2 linked regions of the Homo sapiens genome follow. The main gene of each other region encodes a partner of the protein of the gene in region 2 in a complex. Each region holds a gene or a part of one and is shown on either strand. Other genes may lie near its edges. The genes, in order: GNAI2 and P2RY12.

Region 1 (15,941 bases), about 100 Mb from region 2:
GAAGTGAAGGTTACAGTGGACCGAGATGGTGCCACTGCACTCCAGCCTGGGGGACAGAGCAAGACTCTGTCTCAAAAAAAAAAAAAAAAAAGAAAAAAAAAGAAAATGGATGAGGGACCCACTGCTGAGAGTTTGGTGGGAAGGAGTCTCCCATCCTAGAGGCTGCCTGGCCTGGGTTTGGAGCCCTAGGGAACCCCCTCCCCTGCCCTCAGGCAGCTGTTCACAGCAAGTGGGGAGCCCAAGGCGTGCAGATAGTTGGTGCCAGCAGGAGTGACAGACTGCCCTGGGGACCTTAGGCCCAACCTCTGGGGGTCTAGGTTTGGAGATGTGGTAGGGCCCTGGGTGCCAGGTGGGCCAGTACCCACCCAGGCTGGCCTCCAGCCCCTACACTCTACCCCAGCCCTCTCCTTCACTGCTGGAGCTCATTAGCACTTGAATGGGGGGCGGGGCGGCTTGGGCCTCTGAGTCTCTTCTTCCCACCCCTCCCCCAGGCTTGTCGGGGCTTTGTCTGCAGGAGCAGGCAGGGATAGAGCTCCCACACTAAGGAGTGAACAGGGGTCCAAGCTATAGCTGACCCCCTCTGCCTGCATCCTGCCCAGTTCTGCTAGGCTCAGCCCCTGCCTCTCACGCCAGTGTCAGTGCAGCCAACATGAGGTCATACCTCTAGGGTAGGAGTGAGACTAGGTCCTTTAAGGGATACCTCTGAGCTGAGAGACTAGGTGAATCAGGGCAGCTGGAGCTCAGCTGGGGGCATCCCAGGCGGGTTGGGGAGAGGAACCCCAGACAGAGGGCAGAGCAGGTGTGAGGACAGAGAGAATGAGCCGCGCTGCTGTGGCAGGAGGTGGAAGTCAAACCAGTTGCGGGACACAGGCTTCCATGTCAGAAGCCCTGAGGCAGCATCACACCACCCACTATGTGTCAGAGCCTAGGCTGCTGGATGGGGCCTGGGGATGGTCCGGGACCCCTTTGGCCCTGGGCAGCTTGTCAGCGGTTGGCCCTGGGTGGCCTGAGAGGTAGGGTCACTGAGTGCCATCACTGATGTCCCAGGCCCTTGAACATCAGTTTGCCTGGCAAGTGGCAGCAGGTAGTGCTGAGGGTGGGGTGTGGTCAGGTCCCAGCAAGGTCCCTAGGCCTCCAGCACTGCAGGGGGTGGGGCAGTAGGTGCACTTGGGGCTACTTGGGCCACAGGCAGACACACAGGTCCTGTATACTCTGCCGTTGATCTTAGTTCTTGGTCCCTGGCTGTGACTCTCTCAGTCTGTCTCTAAAAGCCACCCATTCACTTGGCGGGAACAGGATGGAGGAAGCTTTGTCCACCCAAGCTCTTAGCCACTGAGGAACCAGGGACTCCCCCCACCCCACCCACAGCAGAGGAGGAGACTGTCACCCCAGAGCCTGAGTGCTGCCTCCCCTACATCCCGTTGTGCTGTGGGGGGAGGCAGGACCGGGCAGATGGGGGCAAGGTACAGGCCAGGGAGTAGTCTCATCTTCCCAGCATCTCAGGCCAGGAATCCCAGCCTAGGAGTTGAGCGAGGAGGGGAAGGGGTCAGCAGGTTCTGGCCAGGCCACTGCTGATACACCCTGCCTAAGAGTGCTCTGCAAGGTGCTTTGGGGAAGGCAAAGGATTGGGCCCTTTGATGGTGTCCCTGGTACCTGATGCTCTCAGGCAGCCCTTCCCTCAGCTACAGGTGCAGGGTGGAACCCCGTCTGCCCAGCCCCACCCAGCCCTTCTAGCTTGAAGCTCTCGTTCTTACTAAACCCCAACCCCACCCTCACCCTGATGTTACTTCTTGGGGCTGTGGCTGCTCTTGGTGGCTGGGGAGGAAGAATCTTTCTGGAATAACCAAACATTTGCTGGGCTGGTTCTTCTGTGCCGGCCTCTGTGCACATTTACAAGGCTTGAAAGGCAGCACCACACCAGTCTGAGCAAAGGCCTAAAGGTGGGGTCATCTCAGCCTTGTTGGGGAGAAGATATCCTTATGGCTTGGAGGAATCTGGGGGCTCCAAGGCTGCTGACAGCCTCAGGATATGCAAAGGAGGTGATGGCAGCACCTACTGTGTGTGCCCCCGGCGGGAGGAGGAGGTAATGAAGTCTGCACGACATGGCAGGGCAGGGCTGGGCCTCTCGGGGAAGTGGTGTCCACACCAGAGGAAAAGGAGGAAGCAGCTGGGGGAGGAGGAGCCCAAAAGAGGAAGAGGCCAGAGGGCTGCCTGGTGCTAGGGTGGGGGTGAGAGCCCAAGGGCCCCCCAGGGCTTTGCCAACTGGAAGGGTCTAGGAGGTGAACACCTGCCCAGGCTTATCTTTGCACTCCTGTGGGCCATTCTAGTGGCGGTCACTGAGTTGGAGCCAGTCCAGGTAGCTCTGTACCTTGTCCCACCCCAGCAACCATCGGGCCCAAGATCCCAGAGAAGGTGGTGCCTTCGAGAAGGATTCCAGGCCCCTTCTTTGGCCACAGGAAGTTGTGGCTGGGAGAAGGACGCTGGCGGGAGGGCTAGCAGGAAGGCAGAGGGCTGCTCTTAGATTCCCGAGCGGCCATTGCTCTCCAAAGCCGGAAGGCCAGCCACAGGCTGAGATGAATGCCTGGAAATGCAGCAACAGCCCCGAGATGAGCTCACTCTGGGTTTCCCCTGCTGGGGGGCGGACAAAGGATCCCTGGCCTCAGCCTAAGGATTCTCCCCTACCAGCACCCACTCACTGGGTCTAGGGCTGCATTCACTGGGCCTGTTTCCCCTCAGGTGATAACCACAGCTGTCTCTGATTGAGCCTTGACTGTTGTGTGGAGCTGAATTCTTCATTATCTTGTCATATTTAATCCTGTGAGGCTGGGACTGATATTACACCCATTTCACTGATGGACAAACTGAAGCTCAGGGACTTTATGCACTTAAACAGGGAACAGAGATGTCAGGACATGACCCATGTAGTGATTAAGCGCCTGCCTCCAACTGCCATGGCCCTTTGGGAGTCTGTGCTGGCTGGAAGTAACGGATCAGGCAGGACAGCAGGCAGACGGTGTGGGTGCGTGTGTGTTCTGCCTGTGCCTATGGGCCCTGGCTTTCGGGCCTCAATTCTTCTTTTAGGAGGCGGAAAGGGAGCTGTCTGTCCTGGAAGGTGGGACCCAAGACTCTGTGTATGAAGCTTTCTACAGCCATGTGGTCATGGGGGACCCCCTCCACTCCTTTTTTTTTTTTTTTTTTTTTGAGATGGAGTCTCACTCTGTCACCCAGGCTGGAGTGCAGTGGCATGATCTCGGCTCACTGCAACCTCCGCCTCCTGGGTTCAAGCGATTCTCCTGCCTCAGCCTCCTGAGTAGCTGTGACTACAGGTACGTGCCACCACGCCCAACTAATTTTTGTATTTTTAATAGAGACGGGGTTTCACCATGTTGGTCAGGCTGGTCTCGAACTCCTGACCTCAAGTGATTCGCCTGCCTCGGCCTCCCAGAGTGCTGGGATTACAGGTGTGAGCCACTGCGCCCGGCTGCAGCTGCACCTTTTGACTTCCCACTTTTTCTCCTAGTCCGTATCCTCTCACAGTGATGCTCAAGTTATAGCTGGCAATTTAGGACTTCATTCTTTCCCTAATATTATGCTTGTTCTCCCATAAGCCCCAGTCTTAGACTGAGACCAAGCCTGGGGAAGGCTCAGAAGCTATTGAAGTCCATGGTGAGGGCCTCTGAGACTGGGAATTGTCCAGAGGAGTGAAATGAAAGCATGTTCCTTAGGGCTGCACTGTGAGCACAGGCTCAGTGCTGGGTGCACGTACGGTACTGTGTGGTGGTAGAATGTGGCCATGGTGTTGGCTGATGACTGCATGATAGTTGTTGAGGCTGGTTCCTCTTGCTCCTTGGCCTCCGAATCTCAGTGCTGTGGCCTAGTGGGGCCTTGCCCTCTCTTGTAGGGGTTCCTAGGGGTTCTGCTGTGTTGCCAGGCCAGGCCGTAAGGGACTGAGGGGGCTGAGGAAGGCTTAGGAGAGCCAGAGCAGAAGCGTCCAAGCCTCTCTGGGCCATGAAGCCATGCACAGAGCAGAGACCCGTGCATCCTCATGGCCACCCAAGACTGTGGGTCCCAGAGGGTCCAGTTCCTCACCATGAGACCTCAGACTGTCCTCTTCCCTCTCTGTATCCAGCACTAGAATCTGTGATGCTGTGATTTTTTTTTTTTTTTTCTGAGACTGAGTTTCGCTCTTGTTGCCCAGGCTAGAGTGCAGTGATGCAATCTCGGCTCACCACAACCTCCGCCTCCCAGGTTTAAGTGATTCTCCTGCCTCAGCCTCCAGAGTAGCTGGGATTACAGGCATGTGCCACCATGCCCGGCTAATTTTGTATTTTTAGTAGAGACAGGGTTTCTCCATGTTGGTCAGGCTGGTCTCGAACTCCTGACCTCAGGTGATCCGCCCACCTCAGCCTCCCAAAGTGCTGGGAATACAGGCGTGAGCCACCCCGCCCCGCCAGTGCCGTGATTCTTAGCATGGTCTCCTGGCCTGTGGACACAAGGACAGCTGCTGGCTTGGGTTGGGCCCTGAGGCAGTTTGGGGTGACTTTGAAGAGGCTACTCAGGGCAGGCCTTGGGTTTGGCACCCTCCCTCAAGGGGTACATTTCATAGATGAGGCCTAGGCTCCCGTTATCTTTCCCAGAGTCCACCGCCATGAATCAGAAGGGAAAAGAGGTCATTCAGGTGCCTTGGGAACAGCGGAGGGATGCCTGAAATGAAGAGGCCTCCAGGGAGACGGTGCCAAATGGCCCAGCTCCGCGTGATCCGCGTCTTGTCCAGCACCTCCTGGCTCCTGCACAGGCGGTACCTGGGGCCTGAGGCGCCAGCGATGAACAGGTCTGGGGCCTCCTTTATATCAGGCCAGCCTTCCTCACCCGGTGCCTGAGTTTCCCTCTGTGCAGTGGAAAGGGCCCCACTGAGGGAGACACACCTTGCCCCAGAAAGACTTTCCCATGTGTGGGCAGGACCTGAGGCCTCAGTTTCCCTAACACAGAGATCTCTGACTTGGCAGTAGGAAGCCAGGCCCTGCTTGGTAGTGCTCCCCTTTGGGCACTGTGAACCCCTGGAAGCCGCTGGAGGCAGCCGAGTGCCAGAGACTGGCGGGAGGGAGGTGTGGAGTCTGTTGGTCTGTTCAGGCATCCGTTATAGGGCCATGCCACACACATGGGTGGGAGTGTTGCCGGTCCCTTTCAAGACCTCGAGTCCCTGCCTCCCAGTGCCGGACCCGTGCTGAGCCTTCTCGGAGGGAATGAGGGGGGCCGGGGAGCAGCACCTGGAGGAAGGAAGAGACGCCAGGGGCGGGGCTCAGAGGGCCTTTGTCTGGCGGGGTCTCTGCCCCTCCCTCCCGTTGCCATGGTTTCTGTGTGTGCCGAGTCTCTGCAGGCTGGGGGCTTCCCAGGGACGGGCTGGTGGGTGGGACACCTTCCCCAGTCGCCCCTGGCTGAGGCTGCTTTTCTGAAACAAAACGCTCCCCAGTGCTGCCCAGCCCCCACTTCCTTCCACAGTGTCTCCGGCTGCCGGGCGCCCCCTGGTGGTGGCGGGGCATGGGTCCCTAGGACTGCAGGGGACGTGGGGGTGCACGGGATCTGAGAACCACAGGCTGAGCTGGAGATGTGGCACCTTCCTGGGATAAGAGAAGGAGGTGGTGTCCGGGCTGCCTTTGTGGTGGGCTCAGGGCTACCCCCACCTGCCCCACCATATCCCACTGGGATAGGCTGGGGAGTTGTGGCAGTGTGGGCGGGCCTGGTGTTGTGGGTTTGAGCTGGGCCGCTGCCCAAGTCTACCCTGTGGTCCCAGCCGCTGCTGCTTCTGAGAATCTCTGCCCTCGGGCCTGCCACGTCAGCTGGCTGCTCTTCCTGGCCCCACGTGTTCCCACGGAGCCCACCAGTATGGGGGTTCTCTCCAGGGAGGTGTGCCTGGCTTTCTGGGTGTGTGCAGCCAGTGAGCAATGTCAGCAGTGAGGCTCCTGGGCAGGAAGGAGGCCCCAGCTGTGTAGGAGTGCCGGGTTATACTGAAGGGAAGTGACGACACAGCGGAAAGCCAACAGAGGAGCCAGTAGCTCTGACTCCTGTCCCAGGTTATGCTGAGTCCCAGCAGGGAACCACCACAGCTCTGAATCAGCCTGTTAGCCGCTGTCCATTGCTCTTCATCTGCTCTTTATCTGAAAATCTTCAGAAGCTTTCCTTCAAATGAGATGACCACAGCAGTCTTCTCTGCAGGTTGCAGGAAATGAGAGGTTTGGGGAAATCTGTACTCTTTCAAAGGGTAGATAAATAGTGATAACTTTTACCTGAATGCTCACATGTGCCCCACACTGTGAGAAGAGCTTTGCATTTAATCCTTACCCATCTCTCAGAAGGAGACAGCGTTGTCCCATTTCACAGATGAGGTGCCAGAGAAAGGGCAGGAAAGGAGCTGAAGCTCTTGAGGATCTCAGGAAGGATCAGAGTGGACATCAGGGCTGTGGCAAGTCTGGACCTCCTTCTGGGAGAGGATCTGAAAATGGGAGGCAGGCTGGCTGGCTGCTTGAGGCTTGACAGCTCTGCCCAGGGGAAACTGAAGCCAGAAAGGATAGTAGCAAGTCCCAGCCTCCCAGCAGATCAAAGCCTATTAAGGAGTTAGAGGGTCCAAGATGAACAGATGCTGTGACTTGAATGCTGGGGCCTGGACTAAGCATCAAGTGACAAGACCTGTGGGCCTGTCTCTCCTGCTGCAGGGGCCCTGCTGGTCTTGTTCACGCAGGTGGAGTGGTACTGTCTCCCTTCTCTCATCGGTTCCCTCCTCTGGGGCTCAGCACTCCCAAAGTGGAAGCAGATGTTCTAGTGCAGAGCAGCTGCCACCACCCAGCACATCACTATGATTACTGCCTACCTGCTGTGGGCCCTAACTGCGCCACAGGGCAAAGGCTGCAGAGGTTTCTTCCTTGGTGGGAAGAGGTGTGACTCAGTGGGAATGCCAAGGCCACCCCAGGGAACCTCTGCAGGCCTCTCTGGTCTTACCCAGCTGGGGACAGAGCACTTGGTGGGGCCCTCTGCGGGCAGGAGGGGCTGATTCATGCCACCTTCTATTGCCTCAGTTCCCCTACCCAGCATCTTTGCAGAAATCTGGACTCAGGCTGGACGCGGTGGCTCACGCCTGTAATCCCAGCACTTTGGGAGGCCAAAGCAGGTGGATCACTTGAGGTCAGGAGTTCGAGACCAGCCTGGCCAACATGGTGAAACCCTGTCTCTACTAAAAATACAAAAATTAGCCGGGCGTGGTGGCACATGCCTGTAGTCCCAGCTACTGGGGAGGCTGAGGCAGGAGAATTGCTTGAACCGGGAGGCAGAGGTTGAACCGGGAGGCAAAGGTTGCAGTGAGCCAAGATCATGCTATTGCACTCCAGCCTGAGCAACAGAGCGAGACTGTGTTTCAAAAAAAAAATCTGGACTCAGCCACCCCTCTGAGAGGCAGGTGCGAGGGGAGCTGGGTGTGTGCAAAACTCACAGATAAGCCTCTTGCCAGCTTATCTGGTAGGGGGCATCCCTCAGGTCCTGATGGAAAGAGGACCCAGCCAGAGATGGGGAGAGTGAAGCTACTACCCCACAGCTGCCAGGGCACTTAGCCTGTGGGCTGCCCGAGAGCTCTTCACCCCACCCATTCCACCCAGATGCCATCCTGGGGCTCCACCCACCTCTGCTCCTGTCCCCCTTCTCTGCTGGAGCTGCTCCTGGGCTGTGCCCCTGCCTCTGTCCCGTTGTTCCCCCTGCTTCCTGCCTGGCTGCCAGCACCACACCCTTGTCCTGCCACTCACTACTTCCCGCCTGAGTCACAGCTGCTGGAAAGACAAAGAGACCAGCCTGAGTCTAGGGATAGGGGCTCCATGACCTTGATTTGCTTACCTGTCAAGTGGAACTCTTTTTTCAGTGACCCCTGCTTGGGATAGAGAATGTTCTCTTAACATTTAAGAGGCCTTAGGAGGGGAAAATGAAACTTGAAGGGGACAGGGAAGTGGGCCCTCCCTGGCTGGGGCAGGGAGCAGATATCCTGGCTCCTAGTGTGACTGGCTCTGTGCTGCCTACCTCATGTCTACCAGGTCTAGCTGCTGCTAGGAAAATCAGATGCAAAGCAAGTTTGCACCCTCGTCCCTGGGCAGGGTCACGAAGCGGCCCACATCACCTACTAAGAGTGGGCAAAAGGCCAGACCCCCTCTTCACTCTCAGTGGCCAGATAGGGAAACTGATGCCTCAAGTGGGCAGGAGTCCCGAAGTCACACAAGATGGGGAAGCTTTCACCCTAGACCTCAGGTCCCCCATGCCCTGGGTAGCTTCCCTGCTGAGTCTGAGCTCGCCTGGCTCGGGACTGCATGGGGACCCATGACTTCGCATCCTTGGCCTCTGCTCCTGCAGTTCCCCCCATCCTGGCTGTGACTGGCTCCTGGTTCTTCCTCCTGCTCTGGAGGAGCCAGTGGGGAAGACAGTCAGGTAGCCACTGCTGCCCTCCCTGCCCCAGTGGGTGCTTTGAGCCCCAGGGGGATGGGCCTTAAGTGTTCAGGCATCGCTGTGAGGCTTTCCTGGGACCTTTCCCCATGTCCTCATTGGCAGGTGGAGGAGTGTTGGTATGCAGATCCTGGCTGCCCCTTTGCCATGCACAGCCCAATGGGGAGGGAGTGGTGCTGGTATATATCCCGGTACACACCCCAGTGAAGATACTGGGCCCGGCCCCTGTAGTGCCCAGGGGCTAAAGCAATAGAGGGGATTGCTGCCCCAGCCACAGCGCCCCAGCCTTCCCAGGGCCTGCACATTTGTATGTCCACAAGATTGTGCAACCATCACTGCTATCTAATTCCAGAACATAATCACCACCCTCAAAAATAAACTTCATACCCAACTAGCTGTCACTCCCCATCTCCCCAGATCCCCTCCCCTCATCCTGGAAAGCAGGCCTGGGACAGTCAGAAGCTCAGTGATTGCAGGCGCCTGATGGCATTTGTGAGGAGGGCTCAGGCCTTTCCCCTCAGGGTGGTCTCTGGCGTAGGGGGCTGAAGGTGGGCAGGGGCCTTGGCAAGGCCTGCCACCATGTCCCAATGCCTGCTGCCGCTTGTTGAGCACTGCAGACATGGCCCAGAGTCTGCCTGGGGAGCTAGGGAGTGAACCCAGTGCCAGGTGGACTGTGTGGCTCCGCTGCAGTACCAGGTACTTAGGACAGCTCTAGGAGGGACTGCACGGTGGGCAAGTGTGCTCCCTGCAGAGGGGACTCTAACCCTGTGACCTCAGCCTCCCTGGACCTCAGTTCCTTCACTGGTTAGATTGGGGTGAGAATGGAACCTACCTCCCAGGATTGCTGTGGAGATGGCAGTTGGTGGGTGTCATTGATGTAGAGCAGCATCTGGCACATGGTGGGCGCTGTTTTCATATAGCTTTGCTGTCGATATTGCCGATGTTATTGTTACTGCTTGTGTTCGTTTGTGTGTTAGCACCTTCATCCTCTGAGGTTGTTTTGACCAGCCCCAAGGGATGCTGTTGAGCTTGGCCAGAGTACCCAAGTTTGACCTCTGCACAGACCTTACTACCCACCCAGCTAAGCTGCACAGAGGAACAAACGTGCCACAGTGATCAGAATTGGGACACTGTGAATGGGGCATGGGGCACGTATTCCCGGCAAAGAGAACAGCATGAGCAGGGCCCTGGAGATAGCTAGAGGTAGTGCCTGGCAGCTGCAGGTGTGACTGGCAGTGATGGAGCAGGAGCACAGGGTCTGGGAAGGACAGCAGGGCCCAGCTGGGGGCCATTCAACCTGGAGCTCAAGACAAGCCAGCAGCAAGGGAGCAAGGTCAAGGTGAGGCCCTGCCTCCACTCCCTCTGGCCCCCAGCCAGGGAGTTGGGTGGCCCCCCTGGTCCTTCTTTACACAGACTCCCTGGGTAATACAGGCTCCTGGGCTGCACTCCTCAAGATCTGGCTCTGTTGTCTGGGATGGGACCTGGGAGTCTGCTTTTTTTTTTTTTTTTTAGACCAAGTTTCGCTCTTGTTGCCCAGGCTGGAGCGCAATGGCACAATCTCGGCTCACTGCAACCTCCACCTCCCAGGTTCAAGCGATTCTTCTGCCTCAGCCTCCCGAGCCGCTGGGATTACAGGCACCTGCCACCACGCCTGGCTAGTTTTTGTTATTTTTAGAAGAGATGGGGTTTCAACATGTTGGCCAGGCTGGTCTCGAACTCCTGACCTCAGGTGATCCACCTGCCTCAGCCTCCCAAAGTGCTGGGATTACAGGCATGAGCCACCACTCCCGGCGGAATCTGCTTTTTTAAACACCTCCCCAAGGCATTGTCCCGCAGGGTCTCAGCCACATTTTGAGAATGGCAGGGTGGACCAGGCATCATGGGTTCCCTCCACCCTCTTGCCCTTCTGAGTCCTGGCTACATGATCTTAGATCAATACTTTATTTTTCTGAGCCTCAATGTCCTCATCTGTAGAATGGGAACAGAAACAGTATCTGCTGTGACTAATACAGGAGAGAATGCAGCAAATCTCAGTACCAGCTAAAGAGAAATATGGGCCAGGGCTGTACCAGGCCAGGGAAAAGCTTGAGTCAGTATGGGCGTGTGTGGGTGTGGGTGTGTGAGATACGCCGCAGGTCTCCCAGATTCATGAGTCAGTACGCGTGTGTGTTACACTGTAGGTCTCCTAGATTCTAGCCTTCTAGCCTCCATCTGCTCAGGGCAGACCTGAGCGCAGTGAGCAGAGGGCGGGGCATTGGGCCATGTCCAGAAAGCTGAAGTGTGACGCTGTGCTCCTGCTTAGGCCCCTGGTTGCTAAGGCTCAGTGTGGGGAGAAGAAGGGCTGCTACCCTGTTGGATGGAGTATGCAGGGCATCTTCCTGCCAGCTCTGCCCAGGGCACCATATTGGCATGCACCAGCTGCACAGGTTGGCGAGCCTATGTATGTGAGAACAGGGTGGCTCCTTCATGGCTGGCCAAGTCTCCAGCCAAGACCCCCCAGGACAGTGGGGAGCCATGGTGGGCAGCAGAGCTTGTGGGAGGCAAAGGCCTGCAGAGAGTCTGCCATGGGGCACAGGTGCTCTAGGTTACCTTGACCACTGTGGCCCTGCCAGCTGCATTCCTGGTAGCTCAACTGCCCACCAGGCCCAGCTGCCTCCATCTCACGGTGCAGCTGGTGGGAAGGTTAGTTCTGCCTCCTGGGCTACAGGTGTCTGGGCATTTGTTCTGTGCCTGTGGAGCCCCTCTGGGCCTGCCCCCTGACCACCTGTGCCCTCTGTTCCAGGTGCTGGGGAGTCAGGGAAGAGCACCATCGTCAAGCAGATGAAGTAAGTGCTGTATTCCAGAGGCAGTGCTCAAACTCCAGCTTCCCCTCTTCACCCTCTGGGCCTGCACTGCCCCCGACTACAGGCCCAGCCAGTCTTAGCCAGGCCCAGAATCTTCTGAGAAGCAGAAGGACCCTCAGGTCCCAGTGGGTCAGGGGCAGTTTTCCCTTCTCTGAAGCAGGTCCCAGTAGCCCCAGGCAGCCGTGGGAACTCCCAGTGCCCAGGGGACACTAACCTTCCTGGTCCCTGGCTATCAGGATCATCCACGAGGATGGCTACTCCGAGGAGGAATGCCGGCAGTACCGGGCGGTTGTCTACAGCAACACCATCCAGTCCATCATGGCCATTGTCAAAGCCATGGGCAACCTGCAGATCGACTTTGCCGACCCCTCCAGAGCGGTATGTGCCCTCCGCCCCACCCTCTCCCACCTCCCAAAAGGTTTCGGGGTGGCTGGTTGTGGTGGCTCATGCCTATAAATCCCAGCACTTTGGGACGCCGAGGCGGGTGGATCACCTGAGGTCAGGACCAGCCTGGCCAACTTGGTGAAACCGCGTCTCTACTAAAAATACAAAAATTAGCCGAGCATGGTGGCACGTGCCTGTAATCCCAGCTACTTGGGAGGCTGAAGCAGGAGAATTGCTTGAACCCGGGAGGCAGAGGATGCAGTGAGCCAAGATCGCCCCATTGCACTCTAGCCTTGGTGACAGAGCTAGACTCCGTCACAGAAAAAAGTAAACAACAACAACAAAAAGGTTTTAGGGCAAGTCTCATCCTAGGGAATCCAAGAATACCCTAGCCTGGGCCCCATTCCAGAGGTCTCCCTGCCTCTGGCAGAGTGGGGGTACATTCCTTCAACTGCCTGACCACCCGCCACTGTGCCCAGGACGACGCCAGGCAGCTATTTGCACTGTCCTGCACCGCCGAGGAGCAAGGCGTGCTCCCTGATGACCTGTCCGGCGTCATCCGGAGGCTCTGGGCTGACCATGGTGTGCAGGCCTGCTTTGGCCGCTCAAGGGAATACCAGCTCAACGACTCAGCTGCCTAGTGAGTGCTCTGAGGGGCTGGGCAGGGCAGGGCAGGGGCTGGGGGAGGACTAAAGGCTGGACCGGAGGGCCTGAGAACCCCCAGAAGGACACTGCTGGTCTTTGCTTATGAAACCGATGACTGTTAACCAAGGCCTTCCTGTTTTTTGGTTTGGGGGGTGGGTGGGTGTCACGTTACTGAAAGGCCAGGAGGAATGACAGGCAGGTGGCTTATACAGTACATCTCTTCCAGGCCAGTTGAGTCTGATCTGTCTTGACAGTCTTCTAAAGAACATTTGCGGCCGGGCGTGGTGGCTCACGCCTGTAATCCCAGCACTTTGGGAGGCTGAGACAGGCGGGTCGTGAGATCAGGAGATCGAGACCATCCTGGCTAACACGGTGAAACCCCGTCTCTACTAAAAATACAAAAAATTAGCCGGGCGTGGTGGAGGGCGCCTGTAGTCCCAGCTACTCAGGAGGCTGAGGCAGGAGAATGGCGTGAACCTGGGAGGTGGAGCTTGCAGTGAGCGGAGATTGCGCCACTGCACTCTAGCTTGGGTGACAGAGCAAGACTCAGAACATTTGCTGCCACCTGTTCTGTGCCAGGCTTCAAGGACACAGTGATGAGTGGAGCAAAGTCCCCATGCAGTGACAATTTAGGGTGTTAGTGAAAAGGTAGAGGTGGAGTTGGCCCAGAGACAGGATTGCTGAGCTCTGAAGGAGAGTCAGCCAGGGGAGGAGTGGATGAGGGGATTCCAGGCAGGGGCATAGCATGTGCAGCATCTCGGGGTGGTGGGGAGCTGGCTGTGCTTGAACATAGGCTGTGGAGGCTGGCTGGAGGGGGCCACAGGGGAGGAAGTTATCTGGGAGGTGACAGGTGTGTGTGTAGGTCAGAGCCCCTGGACCTCAGCTGTGACCCTCGCTGGCCCTAGGCTGAGGAATTACAAGGGGTCCCAGGAATCCCAGAGGCATGACAAGCCTGCACCCTTTCCACAGTTCTGAACTCCTTCCCTGTGGTATCTGTCATGTACTTGGACTGGTGCAGGGTGCTGAGGACCCCACGGGGAACAGGATAGACAGGCTAATAGCCATTGAGGATGGCTGCAGGGGACATCCACAGGCTTTGGATGGTGTCACCAGATAGGCTGCTGTCCCTGTACTCTAGCCTTCCCCTATCTCTGCTTAAGCCAGTCCCCTCTGACTGGAACACCCTTTTGCTCCTATTGTTCATCCAATCCTGAGCCTACCCATAGGGTGGATTTCAGCAAGGGTGGGTGGGAGGAGGAGGAGGGTCTTGCCTGGCTGTGATTCCTGAGCCCTGTCCAAGCCACATGAACAGCCTCCTCCTACCCTTCTTACATGGCCTGAATGCTCTTGTGAATATGTACCCCCTACAGGAGCTGTGGAGTCACAGCCAAATGCTGTGGGGGCCCCCAGGCCTCACCACTGCCCCTCCCTGAGATCTCTGGCCCAGCCACCAGCGAGCTTGGGGTCAGAGCAGCAGGGACCTTGGTGCCCATGATACTCAAAGGAAGCAGGAATAGAGCCACCTCCAGGCCACCTCCTGCTTCTCCATCATCCTCTTTCTCTATTCTCCAGACATTAGGCACCCACTGTGTGCCCAGCACAGTTTTGGGAGTGAATACAGGCCCTGTTCTCCCAGTCAGGTTTAAGCCTTGATAGCTCCCCCTGGGAATGGGTTGCGGATTGGAACACCACAGGAAGCAGGGCTCCTTCAGCCCCTCTTCGCAGCAACCCTCCAAGTGTGCAGCGAGTCAGGGGGTCCCTGGGGCGAACCCACCTGTTGGGGAAAAGGGAGAGGCTGGTGTGGAATGCACCATGGTACCTCCACATTGAGGACTCTGGCAGTAGGGGGCGGGGCATGGTATGCGGGTCACAGCACATGCGTCATCCTTCCCCATGGCCCTTCCTGTTTTTCTGTTTTGTCCCTGCTACTCTGAGATCATTTCCCTCTGGCCTGGTTTGGCCTGGGTGCTGGTGGGAGCCAAGGGCCAGCCCCAGCAGCCTTGCCCCAGGAATGAAAAGTCAGCTCTGGGCAGCAGCCTGGAGGCCTGGGACCAGCCTCCAGGGCATGGCAGGGATATTGAGGCAGGCAGCAGAGGCAGGCCCTGCAGGGGTAGCCTTGATACTAATTAAGGGAACTGGTAATGAGGAGCCCCTGGGACCCCTGCCAAGCAGGTGTCTGTGCCCTCCCCCTGAGGAACCCAGATTTCATTGGGCGCTGGGCAAAGAGCCCACTGGACCTGGCAGGCCCCAACCTGTCCAGCACCACATCGAGGGACCGCACCCGGCTGCTCTGCGGCTAATGCCGTAATTGCGCCCATTAGCATCCTGAATCCTTCACCGAAGGACTAATTTGCCTCCTCCCACCCTCTTTGCCTATAGCTCCAACATCCTGGATCCTGTCCGAGGCAGGTCTGGCTCAGACCCTGGGTGCTGGAGCTTGGCTGGCTAGCTGTCCACAGAGCTGCACCTCCTCCCATTCCCATTCTACAGGTGGGAGGCCGGGGGCTCTGAGTTCAGGTTTCTTCATTTGAGCAATGAGGTAATGCAGGCAGGGGTTAAAGAAACAAGGGCTGTGCCTAGGCCAGGCGCAGTGGCTCACGCCTGTAATCCCAGCACTCTGGGAGGCCGAGGTGGGCGGATCACCTGAGGTTGAGAGGTCAAGACCATCCTGGCCAACATGGTGAAACCCCGTCTCTACTAAAAATACAAAAATTAGCTGGGCGGCAGGCGCCTGTAGTCCCAGCTACTCAGGAGGCTGAGGCAGGAGAATCGCTTGAACCTGGCAGGCAGAGGTTGCAGTGAGCCAAGATCATGCCACTGCACTCCAGCCTGGCAACAGAGTAACACTCTGTCTCAAAAAAAAAAAAAAAAAAAAAAAAAAAAAGCAAGGGCTGTGCTTGAGAAATGGCATGGGAGGGAAGGGGCCTCTTGCAGCTGGCCCAGGGTCCAGCTAAGGAAGCCCCATGCTGGCCCCCACTGACCCTCCCACCCCCCATCCCCAGCTACCTGAACGACCTGGAGCGTATTGCACAGAGTGACTACATCCCCACACAGCAAGATGTGCTACGGACCCGCGTAAAGACCACGGGGATCGTGGAGACACACTTCACCTTCAAGGACCTACACTTCAAGTGAGCGAGCATGTGGACAGGTGGGAGGGGCAGGACCTGCCAGCCTCTGGGGTAGCAGAGGCAGGGGCTGGTCCAGGATCCCCCAGCCCCACTGAGGTTTTACAAGGCTCATGTGTTCTGGGCAAGCACATCCTCACCACCTAGTGAACCAGCAGTCAGGATCCACGCCACCTCTGCCAGCTGCTCACAGCCTCTGCTGCTCCTGCCTGATGTGGCTGCAGCCTGCCTGCTGTCCAAGCTCCTGGCCCAGAACCAGGGGTGAAGTGGGCAAGTGTGGATGATTCCAGAAGGTAGCTGCCCTACTCTGGGCAGGCCTCTGTCCTCAGTCAGCCAACCTGAGAAATGGGGTAGAAAGCCTCCCCCAGGCTCCCTTCCTGGAACTAAGGTGATCTATATCTGCAGGATGTTTGATGTGGGTGGTCAGCGGTCTGAGCGGAAGAAGTGGATCCACTGCTTTGAGGGCGTC
Region 2 (16,653 bases):
ATATATGTAAATATATATATTTATGAGGTCCTACTGATACCTTCAATTCCAATCCAACCCCACAAAGTTGTTCTGTGTTTTCCCCTAATTCATATTAGTATCACCTTCTTCCCTAGTAAGAATGCTGATTCCCAAAAACGTCAATTTACTTGTTTGTTTAATTCTATGATACATCTGAAATAGTTTTAAAATGTTACACATGGCCGGGCATGTTAAATGTGCTATCCAGCGCTTTGTCAAAAAATGATTAATTAAAATACAGTATCAAAAATGTACACTAGGCTAGGGCGCAGCGGCTCAAGCCTGTAATCCCAGCACTTTGGGAGGCTGAGGCAGGTGGATCACTTGAGGCCAGGAGTTTGAGACCAGCCTGGCCAACATGGTGAAACCCCATCTCTACTAAAAATACAAAAATTAGCCAGGTGTGGTGGCACATGCCTGTCATCCCAGCTACTTGGGAGGCTGAGGCATGAGAATCGCTTGAAACTGGGAGGCGGAGGTTGCAGTGAGCCGAGATTGCGCCACTGCACTCCAGCCCTGGTAAGAGAGCAAGACTCTGTCTCAAAGAAAGAAAGAAAGAAAGAAAGAAATGTTACACACATACCACTAGGAAGAACAAACCTACCTAAAAGGCTTTGAAGATTTGTTTGCAATTCCATTTTCTCTAAGGGTTTAAAATACTGTGTTCAAAAATTATTTGAACTTTTCCCATCCCTATGAGTGTATTCTTTATGTGAAATAGAACTAGGTTCATTTGGTTTTGCATTATTTAAATTCCTTTCTTGTCCCCAGCTCTGGCTATAGAATAGCTTACTTTCAAAAGTGAAACTATACAAAAAAGTATACTCAGAGATGTGTCTCCCTCCCATATCCCTCTTACCAGATGATCCAGTTTTATTATTTTTTGGTTTATTCTCCCTCCCATATATTTGTTTTAAAAGTTCTCTTATAAAAAAAAAGTGACATACCTTATATATTATTTTGTACTTTGCTATAGGTGTCATACCGACTGGGTCATGTTTTTGTATTTTTACAGGCATGTTATAACTATGGTAAAAGATAGCTACATAGTCATATAAGTATTGAGAGGCAATTGTGTGTTGGTTCCCAACTGTGAGTGCATATTGGAATCAGCTGGGGCATTTAAAACAATTTGGATGCCTAAAAAATTACTGATATTTGGGTGCCACCACCTGAGTTTGACTTAATTAGTCTGATGTGGGCCCTGGGCATGGAATTTTATAAAGATCCCAGGTAATTTTAGTGGGCAACCAGCATTGAGCCACTGGTATGGTGGTTAAAAAACAGACTTCACCCGAAATAGATCTGGGTTCAAATTGGGCTCTGTTACTGTTGATGATTTCTTACTTTATTTAGTATAATAATTTGCCTTTGAAAAAAATGGTAAAGAAAAGGCAATAGGAGTTTAAATTGGTAGAAACTCTTCAGAGGGTCATTAACCCCATGCATCTATAGCCCCCCACTCACACTGGACCCAGCAATTGCACTTCTATGAAATTACCCTAAGAAAATTATTGTATAAAAAAGAGATGTGCACTACTACTCATTTATAATGATAACATTATTCATAATAGTATCAAAAAGGAAGATCGTTTTCTAAATATTTGTTATACTATGTTGTATCTAGTCAGTGAGATAGTACAATGTATTCCATAAAAATTATGAAGAACGTATATCTGATAGAATCATTATATAGCAAGTTAGAAAAAACTGACACAAAATAGTGCCTAGAGCAAGACCTTACTTTCCAGTTAAAAACATACTAATATTCTCTTTATTGTCTTTTCTTTTTTCCCATTAAAAAATGTTTTTAAGCAAGTTCTACTTTGTATTTTTTAGAAGCCAAAATGCTAAAAATTTTGTTTTTTAAAATTTTTCTACCTACTTTTTAATGTAATTTTTTAAATTGGAAAATTCCTATCAGTTTTCTATTCAATTATGCACTGTGGATTTAGTACATATTGCATATATATATACCGAAAGCCAGTGCCTGTCAATCTAATTGCCATATTATTTTTAGGAATGGGTAGGAGAGCATTGCTTAAAAGAACCTGAAAGATTATGTACAGACAAAGAACTTATATTGGACCCTGTGCTTTCAAATATGCAAGCACAGAAATTACTGCAGCTTATCTGTTATCCTCATGGCATTAAAGAATGTACCGAGGGGGACAATCTGCAAAGACAGCACATTAAGCGTATTCTTCAGGTCAGTCGTATACAGATTGTGTTTCTGTCATTTGATAAATTCTTCGTAATAATAAAAAGAGTTACTTCCTCTCTTTTTTTGTCCTTGCTAATTTGTGATTTCAATTCTGATTTTTATTCCCACACATTTTCTGTGGAATTGACATACTTTATTTTTGGGTGGATGTACATGCTGCAAATTGTATATGATCATCAAACAAATATTGATATTTTAAATCAGTATTGTATTTACATGAGAAATATGCTTCAGAGAGGGGCTATGTTAAATATATTATTAAAGAAATATTGAAATCATTTTGGATTGGGATTGGTTAAATAGATTTTGAAAGGAGAAATGCTTATTTAGTTTCAGTGCATAGCTGAGTCAGGCACAGTATTAACTAATTAATAATTAATGTTTCTGTTTATTGGTTTGTATCGCTACTGAATATATATGCAGCAAGATTGGGAACCTTTTGACTCATATAAATTATTTCATTGTGTATGATTATTCTGCTCTTTCTTGAGAGAAGGAGTACTGTAAGAAATTACTGTATTTTAACACATTTGATACCCATAATGTTTTAATTCTTTCCATTTTTCCCAGAATCTTGAGCAGTGGACACTGAGGCAATCCTGGTTAGAACTCCAGCTAATGATCAAACAGTGCTTGAAGGACCCTGTGAGTTTATATTGAAAGCTTATCTCTGTATGAAATTTTATAAAAAGCAAAAACACGTTGATGTTTGAGGATAAAGGAATACACATATGTGCCAGTATTCTTATATCTAACTCTAGGGCTCTGGTTCTGTGGCCGAAATGAACAACTTACTGGACAATATTGCAAAGGCAACAATAGAGGTATTCCAGCAGTCTGCAGACCTAAATAATTCTTCTAATTCTGGCATGAGCCTCTTCAACCCAAACAGTATTGGAAGTGCTGATACAAGTAGCACGAGACAGAATGGAATAAAGACATTCCTAAGGTATTTTTGTCTGTTGTTTTATTGAACTGTCATGAATTTTTCACAAGTAACGGTAAATTTTGTGTAGCACAGTGATTTTTCTTTAAGTCATAGGAATGTGAAGAACATAGTTACTTGTAAGCAGGGATTATTATTAATAAGTTAATGAGTAAAGCTGGGGTGAATGATAGCTTCGGAATATTTGATTGAGTAGGCTTAAACACCTTGAAACTGCAGGTGAACTCAGGTTTGGTTCATGCTTTCAGTGTCCCTTAGTCTACTGTGTTACGTAGTATTCATTATATGGGAAACGCTTTTTCCACCATTTTTATTAATTAATTATTTTGCACAAATATATCCTGGTAATTTTTGTGCAGAATTAGAACCAGTAGGCATATAAAGTCTTAAAGTAATTATTTAATCATGAAAGGCTGATTTGTATTTCATCATTTTGGTATAAAGTATAACTAGCGAATTTTAAACCTTAAAAATTAGCTATTAGTATGCTTACATATAATATTTCATATTGTAACTGTGACAGAAAAGTATATTGTTTGTTGGACAAAGTGATTGTTTTTAATTAGAGAGAGGGGGTCATCGGAAAACATTAAAGTCAGTTTAGTTACAATATCCTTCCAGAACTGCATGTTTTATTGCTTTCTGTAGGCTTAGGTGGAAAGCTCATGCAAATGTCTAGTGTTCGGAAAAAGGAAAGATAATACAGAAATAAAAGGGAAATTTTAGAACAGTCTGTGTGTCTCATACATCAAAGTTTCGCTTTGGAGTTTCTGTTATAACTGTGAGAGCAGGGGAAAGGATGCTTTCTCCGGTGTAACACCTGTTTCTGATTTTAGTTCCTCCGAACGCAGGGGTGTATGGTTGGTGGCCCCCCTCATCGCCAGGTTGCCAACTTCTGTGCAAGGAAGAGTGCTGAAAGCCGCTGGGGAAGAGCTGGAGAAGGGACAGCACTTGGGTTCTTCTTCCAAAAAGGAAAGGGACAGACAGAAACAGAAAAGGTGTGGCTGGAAGATGGGCGTCTGTGTGAGAGTTTAAAGAATAATTGAGAAAGTCTCACTTCCTGTAAACCTGTGTGGTCACTGTACCCACAGTCCACTGAAATTTAGTTTTTAAATGGAACTGGGAATATTCTATTAGGCAAGGCTGTCTTATTCCTAAAAAATTTCAGGTTATAATCCTTAATACATTAGTTCTCAATTCTGCCTTTATATCCAAATCACTGCTGAACTGTTAAAAACAGTGATTTCCGAGACCCGCTTTAGACCAACTGAATCAGATCTGGATAGCTACCTGATCCCTGTATTTTATTTTTAATTATTTCTATTTTTTTATTATTTAGATATTTATGTTTAAAATAAATATAATGTATAATTCTGGCATGTTGGTGTCTGAACTAGTTGCTCATATTTTTAACATTTAGGGCTCCTGTTCTAGACTAGACATTAAGACTCCTCGGCCACCACAACTAATGTTTTCTTAATTTATTTTATGCCCAAGAAAAGGTTTCAAGTAATTATATTTGAAAACCGTGTTACTGAGAAAGAAAGAAACCTCACCCTAATGTGAAAATGCCAAGAAACCTAGGAGTAAAGGAAAAAAATTGATAATTTCTTCCATTAAAAAAATATTTTAAGCACATAGATTTCTTGTCCACTAATGAATAATACTATAGTAGCCACCATTTATTGACTGCTTACAGAATGGCAACTCCTCTCTAAAACTCATTATGTACATGAGCTTTTAAAATTCTTATAGCAATCATGTGGTAGGTACTCTCATTATCTTCTTTATATCATGTTGAAACAGACACTTAAAGGTTACATGAGTTGCTCCAGGACACACAGTGAAGGACATAAAGCCTGGGTTTAAATCCAGGAGGTCTGGCTTCTGAGCTTGTGCTCTTAACTACAGTACATTTTGGTAGAGACCCAGCATTGTATGTACTGTATTTGTTTTACATCTGGTTGTTTTACCATGTTGGCCAGGATTAATTAACCAACAAGGAAGCATAATTCTAATTTTCAAATCATATTTGCTGATAGGTGAGTGTATGTGCATTGCCTAACTTCCCATAGGCAGGACAGATGGTATTGAAGAGACTTGAAAGATCGCTCTTCCCACATCAGGGGCTCTTTATTCTGCCCATGGAGAATAATGCTGATTGAAATATTTTGGCCTAGGTCTCATTTTAAGAAATTTGTCTTTCCAACATGGCGCTTTGTTTGTCAATATGATTTGTTGATTATTCTCTAATTGAAGACATTTTGTTAAAATGCCAATTTAAAACAGAATTTTTAACCAAATGCCTTGACACCTCTTTACCAGTGGATGCTGCGGGCTATGTTGGAGCCTGTGGGCTGTGTTGGAGCTGCACACTAGGGGTCGCCAGCAAGTACACTGTTTTTGGAGTCCTCAGCCCTGGCTGATGAATTAGCTCTACTAACACCCTGCTTTTTGGTCTTGGGAAATGTGCTGAAAAACAAAATCAAACCCCAAAACAAGCTCAACAGACATATATATAGGCCTGTTTTCCCAGACTCTAAAACAAGAGTTTTATATGAGAACTTTAAAAATTTTTAATTTTATCCTGTGTATAAATTGATATTCTTTCTGATGTACATTTTTAAATTCTGCATATTGATGTAGAAGATGAATTCACTGTCTTCTACCCTCACTGCCCGGCATGCTCACATGCAGTATGGTTTGATGCTAGTTTGAGAATGGCTTCGAGGGCAATTAGAGCATACGAAGTGATTTAGAAGCATTACAGTGGCTTTTAATTTTATAAGTAGAGGTATGATTTAAATTTTCAAGCAGTCTTTGGCTATTTACCACCTCTCTTATTTATCTAATAGTGAGGCAAAGAAATGAATGTTGCCAGAGGAAGTAATGCATTATTTCTAACTAGATCTGTTGTTATTATTACTTCCTTTGTAGTATGTCTCTTTTGAGTCAACAACCCTTCCTCTCACTGGTACTTACCTGCCTTAAGGGACAAGATGAACAAAGGGAAGGCCTCCTAACATCTCTCCAGAATCAAGTTAACCAGGTAAAGTATAGTATAATATTAAGACAGGCAAATATCTTTCTAACGGCATTCATTTATTTGCCTTTCAAATACTGAGATTAAATTAATAAGGGCCAGGTGTGGTGGCTCATGCCTGTAATCCCAGCACTTTGGGAGGCGGAGGCTGGTGGATCACCTGAGGCCAGGAGTTCGAGACCAGCCTGGCCAACATGGTGAAACCCCGTCTGTACTAAAAATACAAAAATTAGCCGGGCATGATGGTGTGCGCCTATGATCCCAGCTACTCGGGAGGCCAAGGCAGGAGAATTGCTTGAACCTGGGAGGCAGAGGCTGCAGTGAGCTGAGATCGCGCCATTGCACACCAGCCTGGGAAACAATAGTGAAACTCTGTCTCAAAAAAAAAAAAAAAAAACAACTAGTAAGGTTACAAAATGTTTTGAGTAGACGCTGAGAAACAATCCATGCCTTATTCTTCTACCTGGCATTGTAGACACCACAAGATTAACAACTTTATATTAATGAGATATATACAATAAATGTGTACTGCCTATAAAAGTAAAATTTTATATATTGCATATAACTTTGAACTATCTGCCCGTCTCCTAACTCTGCCTCATAGGAGAGGACCTGGAGCAATCTATGCTGCAGTAGGCATGGCAGTGAGTCCAGCTCCTCAAGCTTGGATGCCACATTATCAGGCACGCTTTCAGCTTGAAATCTGTAGGTTCAGAAACTCAGTTGTATTGATGCCAACCAAGTACACAAGAAATAAATCAGAAGGCATGTTGGTTTATTTAGAAATAATTTGGACATTGCCTTTTCACCAAACACAGTTCTCCTGGTCACTGTTTGAGGCTCTTGCATCTATGTACTATAAGGAAACTGAGCATTCACAACAGAAATTGGAGAGCATGGAATTAAGCAAAGTGGATAGATTGGTCTTATGAGGTGTTTTATCCTGATACACAGCCTAATTGACCCCTTCTTGTGGCACTGTGTTTCTATGACACCATGTCTTTCCCTCGAATGGTACTAGATGGACATGGACAAGGACACTTAATCTTATTTGATCCTCTTGTCATTTCTCACCTTTTGGGTAGGAGAGATCTAGATATAGCAATCATAGTGAACCTTTTTAAATGGAAGTCACATATTACCTCAGTATACCTAGTATAAAAAATTCGGGCTGATAAGGCCAGACATGATTTGACACTGGCTCTCTCTCCTACCTTGTCTCCTACCAGTCATGGCCCTCTTTCCTCCATGGTTGTTGCACTGGCCATGTTACTGTTCTTGAACTTGCTGAGCAAATTCTCATTTCAGTGCCTGTGCATCTTTTCTTCCCTTTAGGTGGAAAGATTCCCTTCCAGAGATTAGCATGGCCTGCTCCCTTCATTCAGTTCTCTGTTAAGATGTTACCTCCTTCGGGAGGCCTTTGATCACCTCTAAAAATAGGACCACAGCCATTCTGTATGCCATTGCCATGCCTCAAACCACTTGTTACACTTAGTTTTATTTGTCCCACTACTATTATTTGAGCTCCATGAGAGCTTGTTGTTTAGTTAACTACCTTGCCCCCTTAAGCCAGCCTTAGGGAGGGGTTCATTTCTTCTGATGAGATTTGGGAAGTGCTTTCCTCTCACCTTGCAGGGTACTTACAGGTCATCTGTTGGGATGGAGTACTTCTGCATGTGACTCATTTGAACTCTTTTAAGATGACTCTCATTAATGACCATATTTCAGAGCATGATAGGGTTTTTGTTAGTGGTTTTTTGTTTTTGTTTTGAATTGCACTTTTTTTTTGCTCATCTCATCTGATTTTAGGGTGTTGCCCACTTGTGGCTCCCTTTCCTAAGCAAATTTTTCCTTTTCCAGCATTAGTGTGAGTCAGTGAGGAAGTGAAGAAGCAGCCCACTTTATAAACTGATAAAGCCACTTGGCTGATGTCTGCAATGCCATATTTTTCAAAGTACCGTGCGTTCTCTTTATCAAGGAAGACACATACATAAGATAGCAGACCTTCTCTTCTATAAAACATCAAAATAATACATTTGCTAGGGTTCAGCAAGTCCCTAGAAATATAACAGGACTGAGGCAAAATGTAATTCTCTCTCTCCAGTGTTTTTCTTCGTAAGATCAATGAGGTAATGTATTTTAAAAGTTTTTATTAATGCTTAATTTGATGGCCCTCTCAAGCATTTTCCCAGACTTAATCATAGGCTAGCTATATAATTATATAAGATTTTCTTCCTCCACCTAGAACGGCAAATGCACAAATAAATAGCCAGATTTCTTTCTGCATGGAGGAAGAAGAAAGCTAAAATTTTATTTAGCTTTGTTTGTTAATTTGTTAAAGATAAGAAGTGGTTTTTTGCTATCAGTATAAAGCTCAATTTATCTTTAAATGAGAGAAAAATTAAACTTTAATGGGGAGTTTTTTTCCGGATCTTAGATTTTAAGTAACTGGAGAGAAGAACGATACCAAGATGACATAAAAGCGCGGCAGATGATGCACGAAGCATTGCAACTCCGCCTAAATTTGGTAAGTGACATTTCTAGTATTTTCCCTCCATTAAACATATTTACATGTGAAAATACCTCCAGCTTTCCACTTCTCCTAAGTGCAAAGTCTGCATTACAAGGTGAGGCCTTCCACTCTTTGCTCTCTGTAATTACTTCCCTGTTTCTAAAGCCTTCTGTTTCCCTTGCTGCTTTCCTTCCTGTCTGGTCAGACATCTAGACAGTGCTAGGTATTTTAAGCATAGATTTGCCTTCTCTACCTCTACCCCAGTGAATCTCTCCTTCTCTTCAGTTTGTGCTAAGAATAAATCTGAGAAGACTGTTATAAGTGTTAGCTTCTACTATACTTACTTAAAACCATTTAAAAAGTCTTTTAACTCAAAGTTTTGTCCAACTTTCCATCAAATTGATTATAAAGACAAATCCCACAGAGAAGTTTTATAGAAATTTAAAATGTCTCACATATTGTGCATTCCTTGAGTTTTCTTTTCCCATCAGGCAGGCCCAAGTGCAGGCCCCTCTGGAGGATGGCCTGCCTGATACTTTTGCAGTTGTTTCTAACCTTGTCCCAACACGTGAACTGGTAGGTGTGCGGGCCAAGCCTCCTGCCCACCACTGCTGTGATAGTGGATGTTTCCATATGGTATTATGATAGCAGGCTTAGATTCAATAGTAATTGTACAGCAAACACAAAGATGCAGATAATTGGATTACATGACTTTGACATTATTCAGGTTTAATTCAACTATAATTGCATCATAAAACTGGACATCATAAAAGATTTGGAACAAAAGAAAGCTAAGTTTATTGGTGCCCACATTCAGATACTCACGTCCCTTCTTCATTTTAGTTAATGTTTGAATGACTGAACTGTGCTGAAAGAACTAAAAATAGTGATAAACATGTAGGTAAAAGAGAAAAGATAAGGTAATCTATAAACTAGAGCATCCCTTGTTTTTTTAAATAAAAAACAATCAAAATTTGATAACATAAAGCAATGGGGTGTTCTTTCTGTTTTACAGAATGCAAATATCTTACTGTATTTTGTCTGCTAGGTAGGAGGAATGTTTGACACGGTGCAGAGGAGCACCCAGTGGACTACAGACTGGGCCCTGCTACTCCTTCAGATCATTACTTCAGGAACTGTTGACATGCACACTAACAAGTATGTTTTTATCACTTCACATTGATTTTGCTACATGTATGCATGGTATAAGCTTTGATATACTGATGGCGATTTCTGCCACATCTTATTTACTTGGATGCTATTAAAAATTCTGTGCCTTGAATAAAAATACTCAGTTAAATAAGTGTATTTCAGTTTCACTTTAAGATGAAAATAATTATTTTCTTTCTTAGTGAATTATTCACAACAGTTCTTGACATGCTGGGTGTTTTAATCAATGGAACGTTAGCCTCTGACCTATCAAATGCATCCCCTGGGGGATCTGAAGAGAACAAGCGTGCATACATGAATTTAGTAAAGAAACTGAAAGTAAGTTTGAGATCAGCCTGTATTATGAGCTCAAGTTGTTTATGGATTTATTATCTAGTGCATTTTAATTTATTACTCATTAAATGTTATTAATTGTATTCAACTTAATTTAATGTGATTATTTGCTATTTGTTTCACCTAACCTTATTAGTACCCAGAAGTTACATGCACATAACCTTGATTATTTTTTATTGAAAACAATTACATTATAAAACATGTTTAATTTTTTAAAGAACTTTAGAAATCCACTGTTAAATATATAACCAGAATACTAACATTAGATAGATTTAGGATAACTCTATGCTTGGACTGGCACGTGTAATTGAAAAAATAGCCATCTGCATTGAAATTTATAAATCGATTCATTTGACCGACCACTAACAGACTCCTTTAAAAAAAAATTGTAAGAAAACAGTGCAAAAAAGAAACCAAATAAATCTGATGCATTACCAATCAAATAAATCAATGGTTACCTTGTAATCTGACCCTGGACATGAGAAAGTGTTCTGTTCTGCAGCTCCTGTCTTCTGATTGTGATCACTACCCTGGATTTTTGTCATTTCAGCACTATGATGTTTGTTGTGTAACAACAGTGCCTTTGTATGTGTTCTATTTTCTACTTAAATAGAAGAAATGAAACACTCATTGCTCTATTTGGAACTGCCTTGTAGAACATGTTCAGGGTTAAAGAACATGCGCTAAGCTATAAAAAGGGAAATGTTTCATAGGGGAACTTCCTTCTGGTTAACTTTTGCCTTCATTGTAATTTCTGTCCCACTTCTCACTCTCTCTCTCTCTCTTTTTTCTTTAGAAAGAGCTAGGAGACAAGCGATCAGAAAGTATTGACAAAGTTCGACAGTTACTACCTTTGCCGAAACAGACATGTGATGTCATCACTTGTGAACCTATGGGTTCCTTGATTGACACAAAAGGAAACAAAATTGCTGGATTTGACTCTATAGATAAAAAACAGGCAAGAGTGAATGTTTTTTCTTATATATAAATTTATTTACAAAAGATGAAATACTTTTTTTTGTCTTACCATAGGATATATAAAATATATTAATTTTGCTGTTGATGTTTTTAAGGCATATGCTTGTCTTCTAAGTGTACTTAGTCATTGGCATTATCATATAAAGAGGTCATATCTTTGAAGATCTACGTTTTATATGTTTAAAGGACTTAAAATGTTTCCCTGAATTTAAGTAAATTTTTGGAAACCTACCAAGAGAAAACTAAGTAAAAGCTTAGTGTAAAAAAAAAATTGCATAAATAAGTTCTGATTATACTTCAGATTTAGAAGCAGAATATATTTATCAATGAAAAATTTCTTGTAAGCTGAGCATGGTGGCACATGTCTTTAGTTCCAGCTACTTGGGAGGCTGAGGCAGGAGGATTGCTTGAAGCCAGGAGTTTAAGGCTGCAATGTGCTAGGCTCATGCCTGTGAATAGCCACTACACCCTAGCCTGGGCAACAAAGTGAGACCCTGTCTCTGGGGGGGGAAAAAAAAAAAAAAACCTTCCTGTAGTAAGCTATTTCAAATAAAAATTATTTTAATTGTTAGGATATTCTCTATTCCTATCAAGCAGTATTTAATGGACATTTGTTTTATATAAGATATTAAAGATGGTTCTCTAAAATATGAGAAAATTGGTCAGTTACTCTTTTAATGAACAGTAAGCAACCACCGACATTCCACAATCACCAAGATGAAAGACAGAGTTCCTACCCTCAAGGGGGAAGTAGACAGACAATTACAGTGTAATGAGATTTGTGTGACATGGTACAGAGAGAGTATTAGGGGATAGAATAGAGGGTCCCCAGGAAAATTGACACGAGTCATTTTGAAGGATTAAGAGTTAGCTGGGAGGTAGGGAAAATTGTGGTACAAATAAAGGGAGAGTTTATATGAAGACATGAAAGAATCAGATTTACCAGGGAATTTAGAGTAGCCTGAGAATCTAATACCAGTTTGTGTAAAGAAAAAAAGCTAAAGTCATGGTCAAGTTTGAGTTTGCAGTGTCAGCGGACTTCCTGGTAGTAAGACATCTGGAATCCATTTGGATGTGTGGTTTTTACACCAAGGAAAAAGTTCTCATCTCAAGACAAATATTAGGAAACAGTCAATTTACAGGTGGCAATTGAACCTTGGTTTTATTTTGTTTTACTTTGTTTATTTATATTTTTTGAGATGGAATCTCGCTCTGTCGCCCAGGCTGGAGTGCAGTAGTGCGATCTTTGCTCACTGCAACCTCTGTCTCTCGGGTTCAAACGATTCTCCTGTCTCAGCCTCCTGAGTACCTGGGATTACAGACATGCACCACCAGGCCCAGCTAATTTTTTTTTGTTTTTGTCTTTGTTTTTTTTTTTTTTTCAAGACAGAGTCTTGCTCTGTCACCCAGGCTGGAGTGCAGTGGCGTGATCTCGGCTCACTGCAACCTCCACCTCCCGGGTTCAAGCAATTCTCTGCCTCAGCCTCCTGAGTAGCTGAGATTACAGGTGCCTGCCATCATGCCTGGCTAATTTTTGTATTTTTAGTGGAGACGGAGTTTCACCATCTTGGCCAGGCTGGTCTTGAACTCCTGACCTCGTGATCCACCTGCCTCAGCCTCCCAAATTGCTGAGATTACAGGTGTGAGCCACCACACCTAGCCTTTTTTTGTATTCTTAGTAGAGACGGGGTTTCACCATGTTGGCCAGGCTGGTCTCAAAGTCCTTACCTCAGGTGATCCCACCCGCCTCAGCCTCACCAAGTGTTGGGATTACAGACACGAGCCACTGTGCCTGGCCTGAACCTTAGTTTTAGATGAAGCTACTCATAAAAGAATGCATATAGATAACAACAGTAACACTTACATCTTAGGGAATGACTGAGTAGTTATTTGGGGGCCATTTAAGGAAAAATATTTTTAAATTGACATTTTAAGGCAAGTGCCAAGAGATGTCACCAATTAATGTTAAGAATAAAAAGAGGGTAACCGTTTTTTTTTTTCTAGAGTCAGTAAATATAAGCTTGAGTTGAAAGACTTTACTTATTCCTGCTGCTACAATTTAATTCTCTAATAATAATATTATATTCAGAGTATGGCTTATTAAGTACAGGGCCCACATATTGAACCAAGTTCATGCAGATTTGGATTGAAGTTAATACTAACCCAATTACAGGTTGACTATAACTTGACTCTTAAATTTGATATTATCTTCAAAATTATAAATAGATTACAGAGATTTAGAACTGGTTATAATTTAGTAAGATTAACTTTGCAGTGTTAGAATTTTTAGCAACAAATTTTTAGAATTTTTTTAGCAAAAAGAGGAAATACACATTAACAATAAAATATGCTAGACTGCCTCTGTTGCCTAAACAGAGCATCATGTGGTTAAAGAACTGTAGAACCGGGCTTACAAAGGTCTGAATTCTAGCCACTGCTCTCCGGTGATGTAGCTGTGTAACCCTCTCTGCTGTATTCTCGGGTTCTCTAGGGCTCATGCCAGCCAAAGTGTTCTCTGACTCCATGTCCCATACAAGCCTGGCCTATGAATAAGGAAAAGATCTGAGTGTGCTATCTTAGAGCGCTATTTTCCCACAGGGTCTCCAGGTCTCTACGAAGCAGAAGGTGTCCCCGTGGGACTTGTTTGAGGGTCAGAAGAACCCAGCTCCTTTGTCCTGGGCCTGGTTTGGGACAGTCCGAGTGGACCGAAGAGTGATCAAGTACGAGGAGCAGCATCACCTCCTGCTGTATCACACACACCCCATGCCCAAGCCCCGCAGTTACTACCTCCAGCCACTGCCCCTGCCTCCTGAGGAGGAAGAGGAAGAGCCCACATCTCCAGTTTCTCAGGAACCAGAAAGGAAGTCCGCTGAGCTGTCAGATCAGGGAAAAACCACAACAGATGAAGAAAAGAAAACAAAAGGAAGGAAGCGCAAGACGAAATCTAGCTCAAGAGTTGATGTAAGTGGGGAAAGGAAGGAGAACCTTGGCTCATTAGCATTTAGTATGAGATTTACTCGTGCCCAAATCATATCCCTCGAAACATTACCAAGAGCAGGATAAGTTTTGTTATGACAGTTCTCCTAACAGGTTTCTGCATTAACTGAATGGCACACAATGACTTGTCACAGACAAAAGATTAAAGCTTTTGATTTTCCGTCCTCCACTTTTAATAATTTTATTTTAATTGTAGGCTTCCATTGTAATATTTAATTAATATTTCAGTGCCTCCTAATTTCCTCGGGTTTGAAACTTGAAATTTTTAGAACTATACAATCCCATTCTCTCACATATTTTTAATATGTCTAAAATATTTATTGTATTTTAAGTGGTTGATATCTTCAGTAAATTAACATAAAAAGCTCTATTTGGTTTTTCTTTGATAAAACTTGGAGTTAGCATAGCCAATAGGATGTTCCTGAGATTTTATGTTTTACTATTCCATCTTACCCTCATATATTTTCCTTCTTTACCATGTTTTCAGACTTTATAAAAGATGAAAATAAGCCTAATTTAAAATAGTTTTACTTCTTGTTTCTCTATTAGTGTTCCCCACGTATAATAATCTTTTCATTACAACAGAAATCTATTTGATGGTGATTTAGAAATAATTTTATAAACCTTGAGAAGTAATGCATAAAATGTTTTTCTATTTAAATTAAATTAAAACCTGGAAAATATTTGATAGAGGATTTGAGACATTTTTAATGAAATTCCACAGCATTCTTGCTGCACAGTGGAAGAAATATTCACCATTTCATTCAGATATTCATGATTGGTTATTGTTTACCTATGTGAGAACTAAAATACATCTTTTCCTAGCTGATAGCTTGGTGATTAATACTATTTTAGAAATGACCACCACCACTTTAGGATGCCACTTGAGCATCAGTGCCCCCTTCTCATTCAGTCTTCCTACCAGTATTCCTTTGTCTTGAAGGGAAGTTTAAAATGGTCCAGACTGACACTCCCTCAAATTTGGGGTTTCCAGCCTGTCAGTCCACGTGGATGGGCTTTTGTTCTTTTCTGATGAAAAAGCCCTGAAACCAATCCTGCTCCCCAGGTCAGTCTGGTCATGTCCCCTCTTCCTCTATTCTTCCTGAAGCTCCCTCTTTTCAATGAGATATGCTCTTCAGTAAAATTGCAGGGAAATGAGATTTTGTTTCTCTTCCATCCTCTAGGGCTAGACTAGATGAGGGAAGGTAGGGAAATTGAGACCTTCAGGTGTGATCCTTACAGGCTTTGCAGCTACTATAAGGAAGAGGAAGCATGGGGGATGAGGGGAGTGTCTACTTCTTTAGAACGATGTCTGGAAAATTGCAAGTGAAATACCATCTTGGCCAAAGAGTGGTTCTGAAGCACTGTAGGGCTCTCTGGCGTAATTCTCCAGACCCAAGATATTGGAAAGGCCTTCTAAGATGAAATGATCATGAGTCTTAGCAACTGAAGGTGCTTTTTCAGTGATGAGTGTCGTTCAGTATTGGTATTCCTGACACACTTGTAGTCTTTTGAAATAGAATTCAGAAGAGATCCTTTTCCATCTCTGCCCACTGCAAGCCAAGCACTGTTTAAGTCAAGGAAAAGTTTACCTCAAATGAATATTTCCAGGGGATTTATTAGCACTCTTCCTTCCATCTTCTCCTTTATAAAAAACAGCTTTGTACATTGGGATAGGAGGTACCTCAGATAGCTTACTGAAGTTATTTGCATTAATTAGCTGTGTGATATGTGGAGTTACGTAACTTTTTAAAAAACTTTATGTTGAAGGAATATCCACAGAGCAACATATACCGAGTGCCTCCTAATTACTCGCCTATCTCCTCCCAAATGATGCACCATCCACAGTCCACCTTGTGGGGTTACAACCTCGTGGGCCAGCCCCAGCAGCCCGGCTTTTTCCTTCAGAACCAATCTCTTACTCCAGGTATGTGATGAGAAAGCACAGATCACTCAGAGATGAGAAACAGCTTGTGGTTCTCTTTGCTTTTAACCTGAAACCTCCACAAAACTTGGACATTTCAACCACTGAGTGCTCAGTTGACATTTCTGTAATTCCCTTCACACAGAAATGTTTTTTGTTTTCTAAAATAGGTTAAATTACGAGTTTATGTACTGATTTTGGAACTTTTATTTAGTGTTAAAAGGAAATTAGCTAGTGATGAAAATCTAAGCTGTAAGATATAAAAGTTGATAACGGTTTTATGTTATAAAATGTGTGTATTTTTATCAGATATAATTCTTATTGGCATTTTAAAAGATTACACAATATTGCACAGTGTCTTTTATTGTTCTGAATTATCATGACAGCTAAGAAAATTGGTTCAGCAAGATTTAGATAACAACAAGGAAAACTACCATAGTAAATGTTCCTGATTTTAGTATTGCTTTGGTTCAAGCCCAAGTAGATTTCTCGTCCCAAATGAAAA

Evidence for each region.
Region 1: the proteins of P2RY12 (region 2) and GNAI2 are in contact, whole or in part, in a cryo-EM structure (PDB 7XXI), measured with the Homo sapiens proteins. Residues at the interface, in NP_073625.1 of Homo sapiens: Phe59, Asp121, Arg122, Lys125, Thr126, Pro129, Phe130, Thr132, Asn134, Pro135, Ile212, Leu216, Ser219, Tyr220, Arg222, Thr223, Arg224, Val234, Lys237, Ile241, Leu301, Cys302, Lys303; in NP_002061.1 of Homo sapiens: Arg24, Glu28, Ala31, Arg32, Leu195, Glu319, Ile320, Tyr321, Phe335, Phe337, Asp338, Ala339, Thr341, Asp342, Ile344, Ile345, Lys346, Asn348, Leu349, Lys350, Asp351, Cys352, Gly353, Leu354, Phe355.

The regions. Positions count from the first base shown.
Region 1 is NC_000003.12:50,240,846-50,256,786, forward strand, and holds part of GNAI2 (guanine nucleotide-binding protein G(i) subunit alpha-2), read left to right. Parts: intron 1-6,064; exon of another isoform or gene 6,065-6,223; coding exon of another isoform or gene 6,224-6,230; intron 6,231-10,774; exon of another isoform or gene 10,775-10,828; coding exon of another isoform or gene 10,829-10,898; intron 10,899-11,254; coding exon 11,255-11,297; intron 11,298-11,551; coding exon 11,552-11,693; intron 11,694-12,178; coding exon 12,179-12,339; intron 12,340-15,346; coding exon 15,347-15,475; intron 15,476-15,877; coding exon 15,878-15,941. UniProt on the Homo sapiens protein: Guanine nucleotide-binding proteins (G proteins) are involved as modulators or transducers in various transmembrane signaling systems.
Region 2 is NC_000003.12:151,373,985-151,390,637, forward strand, and holds the start of P2RY12 (P2Y purinoceptor 12), read right to left. Parts: upstream 10,770-16,653; 5' UTR 10,708-10,769; intron 10,235-10,707; coding exon of another isoform or gene 10,099-10,234; intron 9,905-10,098; coding exon of another isoform or gene 9,795-9,904; intron 8,762-9,794; coding exon of another isoform or gene 8,672-8,761; intron 6,241-8,671; coding exon of another isoform or gene 6,129-6,240; intron 4,190-6,128; coding exon of another isoform or gene 4,028-4,189; intron 3,195-4,027; coding exon of another isoform or gene 3,007-3,194; intron 2,891-3,006; coding exon of another isoform or gene 2,816-2,890; intron 2,231-2,815; coding exon of another isoform or gene 2,042-2,230; intron 1-2,041. Other genes in the region: MED12L (mediator of RNA polymerase II transcription subunit 12-like protein), read left to right, coding at 2,042-2,230, 2,816-2,890, 3,007-3,194, 4,028-4,189, 6,129-6,240, 8,672-8,761, 9,795-9,904, 10,099-10,234 and 3 more. UniProt on the Homo sapiens protein: Receptor for ADP and ATP coupled to G-proteins that inhibit the adenylyl cyclase second messenger system. Not activated by UDP and UTP. Required for normal platelet aggregation and blood coagulation.